Regions from separate parts of the Homo sapiens genome. Here regions 1 and 3 are each reported to be linked to region 2. The links are microRNA targets in miRTarBase. Many come from high-throughput screens and were not tested one by one. Region 2 holds a microRNA gene; each other region holds the end of a gene's coding sequence.

Evidence for each region. The annotated mature microRNA hsa-miR-6780b-5p reads UGGGGAAGGCUUGGCAGGGAAGA and lies in region 2 at 1,116-1,138, shown strand. An mRNA with a match to its seed (bases 2 to 7 or 8) in the 3' UTR can be bound and repressed. Matches are read on the target gene's strand: a 7mer-m8 pairs with bases 2 to 8, a 7mer-A1 pairs with bases 2 to 7 and ends in A, and an 8mer does both.
Region 1: miRTarBase lists ZNF444 as a target of hsa-miR-6780b-5p. Seed matches in the 3' UTR shown: 7mer-m8 at 792-798.
Region 3: the mRNA of ANKRD52 is a reported target of hsa-miR-6780b-5p. Seed matches in the 3' UTR shown: 7mer-A1 at 1,202-1,208 and 7mer-m8 at 1,788-1,794.

Annotation. Positions count from the first base shown.
Region 1 is chr19:56,159,691-56,162,936 of GRCh38, forward strand. It overlaps ZNF444 (zinc finger protein 444), which reads left to right. Exons shown (of 5, transcript NM_018337.4): 5 at 1-1,203. The coding sequence ends at 511. Among named protein-coding and RNA genes, the nearest start is that of GALP, 15 kb to the right of the region's middle. RefSeq lists an enhancer at 2,755-2,854.
Region 2 is chr6:43,433,432-43,436,677 of GRCh38, forward strand. MIR6780B (microRNA 6780b) reads left to right here and starts at 1,111; the gene lies at 1,111-1,189. It overlaps ABCC10 (ATP binding cassette subfamily C member 10), which reads left to right. Exons shown (of 22, transcript NM_001198934.2): 4 at 1,190-1,417; 5 at 2,320-2,476; 6 at 2,707-2,816.
Region 3 is chr12:56,240,531-56,243,776 of GRCh38, reverse strand. ANKRD52 (ankyrin repeat domain 52) reads left to right here. Exons shown (of 28, transcript NM_173595.4): 28 at 385-3,246. The coding sequence ends at 635. Among named protein-coding and RNA genes, the nearest start is that of SLC39A5, 12 kb to the right of the region's middle. RefSeq lists an enhancer at 502-671.

The DNA.
Region 1 (3,246 bases), not on the chromosome of region 2:
GGAGCCCAGCAGCCCCCCGCTGGCGCCTGGCCTGCCCGCCTTCCTAGCGGCCCCGGGCACCACGTCCTGCCCCGAGTGCGGCAAAACGTCCCTGAAACCAGCTCACCTGCTGCGCCACCGGCAGAGCCACTCGGGCGAGAAGCCGCACGCCTGCCCTGAGTGCGGGAAGGCCTTTCGGCGCAAGGAGCACCTGCGGCGCCACCGCGACACGCACCCCGGCAGCCCCGGCAGCCCCGGGCCCGCGCTGCGCCCTCTGCCCGCCCGTGAGAAGCCCCACGCGTGCTGCGAGTGTGGCAAGACCTTCTACTGGCGCGAGCACCTGGTGCGCCACCGCAAGACGCACTCGGGAGCGCGGCCCTTTGCCTGCTGGGAGTGTGGCAAGGGCTTCGGGCGCCGCGAGCACGTGCTGCGCCACCAGCGCATCCACGGCCGGGCAGCGGCCAGCGCGCAGGGGGCGGTAGCTCCGGGCCCGGATGGTGGAGGCCCCTTCCCGCCCTGGCCCTTGGGTTAGCCGCCTCCCGGCCAGCGCCATCTCCCGCCCTTGGTGCTGCCCCCGGGCGGTACCTGCTCTCTCCCAGCGCCACTTGGCCTCTTCCTCTCCTCCTTCCCTCCCATCGTCCTCCTCCACCTGCGCCTCCCTTGTCTGAACTTCCCAACGCCTTCCTATTCCTTTCCAACTCCTTTTCCCCCAAATTTCACTTTCCTTCTCAGGTCTCACCTCAGCCCCCCCCTTCTCCCTGATTTCTCGGCCTCTCTCTCTGTGTGAAGGGGCCTCTCCCTAATGTCTCCTCCTTCCCCCCTCTTCTCTCTCCTGCGGCCCAGCCTCCCTCTCCCTCCTCCATTCCTCTCTCCCTGCCCTTTTCCTGCCTGAAGAGCAGAGGTGAGGACCTGGGACCCCTGAGGGGCAGGCCAGGAGGAGCTCGGGCGCAGGCCAGGCCCCCTTGGTGAAGCAGAGGCTGAAGGAAAGGGGTCTGGGTCTTGTCCCTAGGAATTCTCCTCCCTCAGGAGATTGGGGGTTGGGGGAGGCAGCGGGTGATGGCTCTGAAGCTGAACCCAGGGCCTGGCTGTGGTCTTCTTGGTCTTGCTGCCCCCTGTGACCCAAAGGCATGGGATGGACAGAGATGCCTGCCCCCGTGAAGCTGGTTGGGGAGGGCAGTTCACCAGCATCCATAGAGTAATAAAGTCACTGTGTGTAGACCCGGAGTCTGAGCTCTGTCTGGAGTCTGTCCGGCACAGCCACCCTCCCAGGGCCGAGCGTCTGGGGTGCCCGGGGCTTCTGGGGTCAGCTGTCTTGGCTCCCACCACAGACTCTCTTGGCATGAGAGAGGCTCTGGGAGTCTGGGCACAGCTGTGGGAGGCAGTGCAGGAAATGTGTCCTCAGGAGGGCTGTCCCCACCTCCATCCTACGGAGGCAGGGATGAGGCTCCTGGAAGGGACCTGCCGAGTGCCACACTGAGTCAGGTTCGCATCTGAGCCCTTCAGCTTCCTGGCTGGGAACCTACAGGTTGGTCATACCCTCTGGGCATGAGTTCCACATCCGCAAGTGATGATAATGGCACCCACCTCCCTTGCTAAGGCCACTCTGTTTGACTGGGGTCCTGAGTGTCAGTGTTGGTAGGTCTTGGGTGGCCCATTCTGCCACGCAAGGAATTCTCTCACCTTTAGCTGGAGCCATTGGCCGAGGGGGGGACTCCGTATGGAGGGCAGGCTTTGGCCAGCTGCATCTTTCCAGGATGCCACCTCTTGTCAGCTCAGCGAGCAACCCCGGTTCCTTCTCTCCAGAGAGGAAATCTGTAGCCTCTGCCGGGTGGATGAAGGGCAGTTGCCGGGCTTTGGAAAGCGTAGGATGAGAGCGCTGGTCTGACCACTCCCCTGCCGCCCAGTCTTGGGGCTGGCTTCACCCTGGTCCTTTTGGTTCCTGTGTGCCCAGCGCCTGAGCCTGGGAGGGGTTCTATGTCAAACCCTCCATGGTTGCCGCCTTGTGGCTGAGCCCGCCACGGTACCACCTTGCGTCCAAGCCCCCCCACGGTCACTGCCTTGCTCTCTGCTTCAGCTTCTGGCTCAGTGTCAAGGGCTGGGGCAGGTACAGCCTGTGCCGGGCTGCGAGGGCATCTGGAAACAGCCACCTGGACGGTCCAGTGCACATCACTGGAGTCTAGGTCTGCCTTCAAGACTCAACAGTGCAGGGAAGGGTTTAGGTGCCAGGCTATCCAGGAAGGGCAAGTGACCACAGGCCTCAGCACCCACCTCCTAAGACAGGACTGGTAGTAATGCCCCTCCTGAAAAGGGACTGTTTTTGAAAATTAAATAAGGCTGGGTGCAGTGGCTCATACCTGTAATCGCAACACTTTAGGAGGCTCGGGTGGGTGGATCACTTGAGCTCAGGAGTTCAAGACCAGCTCGGCTAACATGCTGAAACCCCGACTCTACTGAAAACACAAAAATTAGCCAGGCATGATGGTGGACACCTGTAATCCCAGCTACTCCGGAGGCTGAGGTGGGAGGATCACTTGAACCCAGGAGGCAGAGGTTGCAGTGAGCTGAGATCGCACCACTGCCCTACTCCAGCCTGGGCAACAGAGCGAGACTTCGTCTCAAAAGAAAAATAAGGTAATGAATGCAGAATACTTACGGGAACTTGGTGTGTGATCTCAGCCTGCTGCTTTCACACTGACAGGTGCATGTTAAGGACGTTACCATGCCCACCGTGTGGGGAAGAAGACGGGCTGGGAGAAGCCGTGTCGTCTGCTGCAGACTTTCAGGAAGTGACTAAGAGGCATGAGAGGGAGTATGAGGTGGTGTCAGGCCAGGGTCTGAGGACAGGGTTCTGATAACAGCAAACACAGAGTGAGTCTGCTGGGCCAGACCTTTTTAAAATCCAGTTTGTTTATCATCATAACCAACCGATGAGGCATGCACTGTTGTTATCCCCATGGTACAGATGGGGAAACTGAGGCACCAAAAGAGTAAGGGACCGGGCCACATCTGTGGATCTCATCCCAGGTGTCTGGGCTCACAGTATTCACTCCAGCTCCTAACAGCACAGCTGCTGCTTTTGCCCATTCAGGCTCCATCTCTTCTCTTCTGAAAAGCCTCCCGGGACTTCTGTGCCCCTTTGGGGACCCCTCCAACACACACACACACACACACACACACACACACACACCCCGTGTCTGGTCTCGGAGGGACAGTCGGCCAGGCTGTCCTGCCCCACTCTTTTGTGTCACTCAAGATGGACAGTCCCGG
Region 2 (3,246 bases):
CACACTACCTGAGGGAGTGAGAGTGACCTCAAAGTTAAGAGCTGAGACTGGAGAAAGGTAGACCTGGGTTCAAATCCTGGCTCTACACTTACTGGTTCAATCACTTCAGACAAGTCACTTAACCTATTTGGGCTTCCCCTTCCTCATCTGTAAAGTGAGAATAGTAGTAGCTTACCTTGTAGAGTTGTAAGGATCTCATGAGATAATGCTTAGTGTAGTGCCAGTCACAAAGTAAGCTCTGAATACATGTGGCCACCCTGGGAGGTAGGAAGTCATCTGTCTGGCTCCAAACAGGTCTTTAGGGCCAGAGCTGGGACCCAAGTCTCCAACCTCCTTATCTAGGGCACAGACCACCCCATGGCTGCATGTAGAGACCTAGGAGAACCTCAGCTGCCTCTTTGGGTAGGCTGAGGGGAAGGGAATAGGTCACTTTCCTGCCTGGGTCAACTCCAGGTGTTTAGGGTTTGGCTGAATCTGCAGAGCTCTGGGTTCTGCAGTGATTGTGGGTACCTTCACAAAGGGGATGGCAGTCCTGGGGGTTCATACAGCATAGTTGTCGACCCTTAGTGGAACAGCTCAGAGTGCTCCTGGAGGGAAGGGAGGTTGATAGATGGTTATGGCATGAGGCATTTTCCCCTACCTGTGACAGCTACAGACGAGGAGTTTTGGCCCTTGCCCATCTTCCCTGGGCCCATTAGCCTGTTTGACCCTGGGCTGTAGTGTGGCCTCTTATGCCTGTGTACTTCTACAGGAATAGTTTCTGTGCCACTCAAGCCGGGGGCCGGAACTGGGGGGCCAGCCCCCGAAGCCCACATCTTTTGGTTTTGGGAGATAGCCCTTTGTCCCTCATCTAATGGGAGGAGAGCTTTTACTCCACTGTGGTGACCTGGCTCCACCTTCCACCACTCCTCCTAGGAAGGTGGGGAATTCCCACTCCAAGCTGTCCCCAGCTGGAGCAAATGGAGAAGTAAGAGACTGGGAGGGGAAGCAACCCAGGGCTGAAAAGGATTTGAAGGGCAGGATTTCCAGAAAGTACTGAGGTGAGGAAGAAAACCAAGACTAGGGCAGTGCAGAGTATCTGGGAGCTTAGAGTACTGAACATTCTGCCAGCAGCCTGGGGAAGGCTTGGCAGGGAAGACACATGAGCAGTGCCTCCACTTCACGCCTCTCCCTTGTCTCCTTTCCCTAGCTTGTGACAGAGCTGCTGAGTGGCATTCGGGTCATCAAGTTCTGCGGGTGGGAGCAGGCACTGGGAGCCCGAGTAGAGGCCTGCCGGGCTCGAGAGCTGGGGCGACTCCGGGTCATCAAATACCTGGATGCGGCCTGTGTATACCTGTGGGCTGCCCTACCGGTTGTCATCTCCATCGTTATCTTCATCACCTATGTCCTCATGGGGCACCAGCTCACTGCCACCAAGGTGAGGACCAGGAAGGAAGGGGACCAGCATCAAGGAGACTTCAGCGAAGTGAAGACAGAGGCTTGGGCCCTCAGTGCTGGCTGAGAAGGAGGGAGGGATCCCTGACTGCCTCATCTCTCAACCAAGGGAAAACTGAAGAAACCTTTTTGTGGGGGCCTTGGATATATAACCCTCCCCTCTGTGAAGGAGTTCCTTTCTTTCCTCTCCTCTACCTTTCACTCCAGCTTCTATTCAGTTCCAGGCTTGGGGTTAGGTCTCTTCATCCTCGTTCTAATGGCCTTAGGAAAAAAATGTATGATGCAATCCTGGGTCTAGCCAAGGCCAGGTGATGTTGCTACTTGGAAATTCTAAAAAAAAGACTCAAAATGAGCTAGGCCTGCCTAGTTAAAAAGATGCAACCTTGGCCAGGCGTGGTGGCTCACACCTGTAATTCCAGCACTTTGGGAGGCCAAGGCAGGCGGATCACCTGATGTCAGGAGTTCGAGACCAGCCTGACCAACATGGTGAAACCTTGTCTCTACTAAAAATATAAAAATTAACCAGGTGTGGTGATGCATGCCTGTGATCCCAGCTACTCAGGAGGCTAGGGTAGGAGAATCACTTGAACCCTGGAGGTGGAAGTTGCAGTGAGCCGAGATTATGCCACTGCACTCCAGCTTAGGTGACAGAGCAAGACTCGTCAAGAAAAAAAAAAATGCAACCTGAATCCCTTGAGGAACATTGGAATTTCTAGGATTCTTTAAGTGACCATCTCTGCCACATCTGATCCCAGGATTGGCCAGCCAGCCCTTCAGTTCTGTCATTGCCCAGTTCTTCCCTCCGTAGACCTGTCCACAGGGCTTCCCATAGAAACAGGCCCTTAGATAACTCCTGGGGCTTCACCCTGCACCCACCTCACTCAGGTGTTCACGGCCCTGGCACTGGTGCGAATGCTCATTCTTCCTCTCAACAACTTCCCTTGGGTGATCAATGGTCTCCTGGAGGCCAAAGTGTCCTTGGACCGGATCCAGCTTTTCCTCGACCTTCCAAACCACAACCCCCAGGCCTACTACAGCCCAGGTAATGGGAAGCTAGTGGGCAGAACCTGGCACAGGGTGAGGAGGGAAGTGGAGCCACTTGGGTGCTGCGCATAGATGTCACCAAGAGGGCTTAGAGAGAGCGGAATCCAAAACAGACTCATTTAGCTTTGGGCAGGTAGATATGGGGCTGGCAAGTGAATTACATGATTTACCCTCCCCAAACAGATTGTGGTAGATTAGGAGCCCAAATCAAGTGGCTTCTCTGTTCAGATCCCCCTGCAGAGCCATCTACAGTATTGGAGCTGCATGGAGCCTTGTTCTCCTGGGACCCAGTTGGAACCAGCCTGGAGACCTTCATCAGTCATCTCGAAGTGAAAAAGGTTTGTTGGACAGACACCCTGGGAGAGTCCTCAGACTAACGAGAGAGATGGGAACTCATGTCAGAGAAGCAGTGACCGAGCCAATCATAGCTGATGGCTCTGCAGCTCTAATTGCTGCAGGAGGGATAGGCATTTGGTGAGCAGGTTCTAATCATGAGGAGATGACACCTCACATCTGAATCTCAGAATAGTTGCACCTCTCTCTGGTCTTTAGGCAGCTTGTATCCATCCAGTCCAGACCAATGGGTGTGCTTGTCTCTCCATGTCCCTCAGAAGCTGCAGCATTCAGAACAGGCCCTGGGGTTTATGTAGCATCTCCCCCAGATTGGGGATCTGGGGGAGAGGCCCAGCAAGTGCTTCCAAGAAATATTTTGCAAATGGGGATCCTCTGTTTAGGCTGGTGAAAAGCAATCACACCCTGTGACTCATG
Region 3 (3,246 bases), not on the chromosome of region 2:
GGTCTGGGGCCCCATGCCTCTCTTGGGTTTGGGGTCAGGGACATTCTTCAGGAGGTGACTTCTTAATCTTGCTATACATGGGATTTTCTTCCCAAGGGAACTCTTCAGAGCAGGGAGCCCACACCAGTACTCTGGAGTCTCAGAGGGGAGCCTGCAGGGTCAGGAGGACTCCACACCCTAGGCTTTGACTCCCATGCCCGCCCTTTAACCCGTACTTAGAGAATCTGCCTGTCAGCCTTCCTGGGCCCTCGTCACCCTTGGATTCTGCCGCTGCTGGGTACCTGCCTGCCTTGGCTCCCTCCACAGAGAAGAGACTTCAGGGCTTGGGGGAGGCTGGCTAGGATACAGGACTCTATGCCTCAGTTCTCCCCCTTGGCCCTGCAGGTCACACCCCAGCACTGGCCTGTGCCCCCAACAAAGATGTGGCAGACTGCCTGGCCTTGATCCTTTCCACCATGAAGCCTTTCCCACCCAAGGACGCCGTCAGTCCTTTCAGCTTCAGCCTGCTCAAGAACTGCAGCATTGCAGCCGCCAAGACGGTGGGTGGCTGCGGCGCCCTGCCCCATGGGGCCTCCTGCCCCTACAGCCAGGAGCGGCCCGGCGCCATTGGGTTAGATGGCTGCTACTCTGAGTAGCCCCCTCCAGTGTCCCTCCCCCGCCGGTGGCTTGATATCTAATTCTATTTATTTAGAAAAAGTCTAAACATTTAGGGCACTTTAAAGGAGAACACGACTGGGTGGAGGGGGCGGAGGGGAAGGAAGCCCTGGGGAGCAGCTGCTCACCCCTTTGCCACACCATCTTGGCCTGGCAGGGGTCTGGGACTGACAGGGAGCACCCCAGGCCCTTGGTACCCCCAGGGCGACCCCTTCTGCCAAGTGTCCCAAAATGATTGCTAAATGCCTGGCTCCCCCACTCTTTGACTCCATCTCTTGGTTCCCTCTTTCTGCTGCCAGCTCCCCCGACTCTTCCCTGGGGACTCCTCTCTGTGTCCCCCTTCTCCCCTGCCCCTACTGCCAGGCAGATCCCCTCTTCTTCCATACCCATCACTGCCTCCCTGCTCGGCCGGTCCCTCCATCCCCGCAGCAGTGAGAAGCCTTAATTTCTGGTACTGTGTGAGCACTCTGGGGGTGTCCCCCTCCCCCCTTCAGGGGCAGCTAGAGGATGAGGGGGGAGGATATTTAGCACTGGGGCCTGGAGCTTTTTCCCCACTTCTGTACCCTATCACCCCTAAAGTTCAAATGCAAAACACTTGAAGCAGCAACTACTGTACCTGGGCCCCAATCCTGCACTCTCCCCTGGCTCCTCATATGCAAATCAAGGGCTGGTTCTGCCCCCACAGCCTGCCCCCTCCCCATTCCCTCCCACTCCTAGCCTGGCCCCTAACCACGCACTTTAACCTTGCTTCTTTCTTTTATCTTCTTTTGGGAGGGCAGAGCCTGTGGTCATTCCTGCCCTGGCTCTCCTTCCCTTGAACTTTGAGGCTTGTCATGAATTTTTAAGTAAGCGTTTTATCCTTTAGGGGAAGAAACAAATTAATTTCCTGCCCATTTCAAAACCACAGCCCTAGTATGTCCACTGTGTTTCAGGCATGTGTTTGCATGTATATGGAGGGAGGGACCATGTTCTTCCTCCTGTGCCGCCAAGCCCATAGTTTATCTGTGCTCCCTATCTGCCTCCACCTTCCGTTATGTCCAAGAGTACCCACTGCCCCAGTCACTCCTGATCTGAAGCCAAAGATGGTAGGAGGGGCAGGGCCGACAAGGGACCGTGGCTACTCGGGACCCAGGCTTCCCCTCCAGTGTGAGGAAGAAGCTCTGACCTAGAGAGAGATGAATAGGTACTGGGGCTTGGTCCCTGCCTTCCCAGCAGGGAGGAAAGATGGGATTGAGCTGGGGGCTGCACTGATAAGATTTCTAAAGTCGCACCCCAAAAGCCAAACTGGGCTGGAGTGAAGAGGGGGCAGTTTTCTCTCTAAATGTAGCATTGAATTTGGCCCTGGTCCCTTTAAGTGCTCTGTCCACCCATCTCCTAGTGCAGCCTCCTGGACAGTTGGACCCACTCCTGCAGCCCAGTGTTCCCTTCCTCACACTCAATACCTCAGCCAGGGGCCAAGACACAGAACTTGAATAGAGGTCATGCCCCCTCCGCCCCCACACTGCATCCTTGCCCAGTTTGGCTGCCATCAGTATTGTCCCCTGAGAACTGGACAGGCTTCGTTTACACAGTACAGGGTCTCCCCTGAGGGGGGATCCTTCAGCCTCCCTCCCCTACTCAAGTTTGCTTTATTCACAGTCTTACCCATCTTTTAGTTGTATACCCTGAATGTCTTGCCACCCTTGTCAAGGGTGGGCTGAGGGGAGGGGGGCGTCCCAGGGACCCCCTCCCTCCCCAACGGATACCTTTAACCATACCTCATGCTGGTTTCCAGAAGCCTGGGGTGTTGTCCAAGTCCTTATCTTTTCATGGTCCCTTTTGATCCCCTGTCTCTCTGTGTTTTGCTTCTCCCAACCCTCAGTTCCTAAATCATTTCAAGGCTTCCAAATGACCATTATTGATGAGAAGGATTGTGCAGCTTTTAGTTTTTATTTTTATTTTCAAAGCCAAAGGGCCTTGTGACGCCCCTCTTGCCCACCTCCCTCCACACCGTGTCCTCCCCTATATGACAATCAATGTGACCTCTCTTAAGGGCTGCAGCCCCCATCCCCAACCCTGCTGGCTCTGCAAAGCTTGCCTTCCCTTCAATTCTCTCTCCTGAAATCTTCCCATTCCACCCCCTCCCTCTCATCTTGGTGCTGGGAATTAGGTGGTGGGGGGCAAGGGGAGTGAGAAGATGGGTCCTCCAGAGAGAACTTGCCGGGTGTGAGTCGTGTTCTCCTTTCGTGATGTTTGGTGATGGCGGGAAGCGTCTGAGTGTCAGAGCCCCGTTGTCTTGCTAGATGAGATTTCTGGGGGCTGTCTGCGCCCTGCTGCCCTCAGCGCACTGTCAGCAGTGCTGGGAGGTGGTGGGGAGTCCTCTGTCCCTCCATATGTGGCTGTGAGGAAGCCTGGGGGACAAGCAGCCTCCTCTCCTTATGCCAAAGGAAACCCCACGCCCCACCCTGGGCTCCCCAGCCCTAGTGTTTTTTGAAGCATTTTGACCATTCTCATGGCCACTGCATATTTATTTTAATGTTAAGATTTTTTTTAAACCTCTTTGACTTAAACGGGTGTGGAGAAGTAAAACAGGCAGAATGCCCCCCAGTCTTC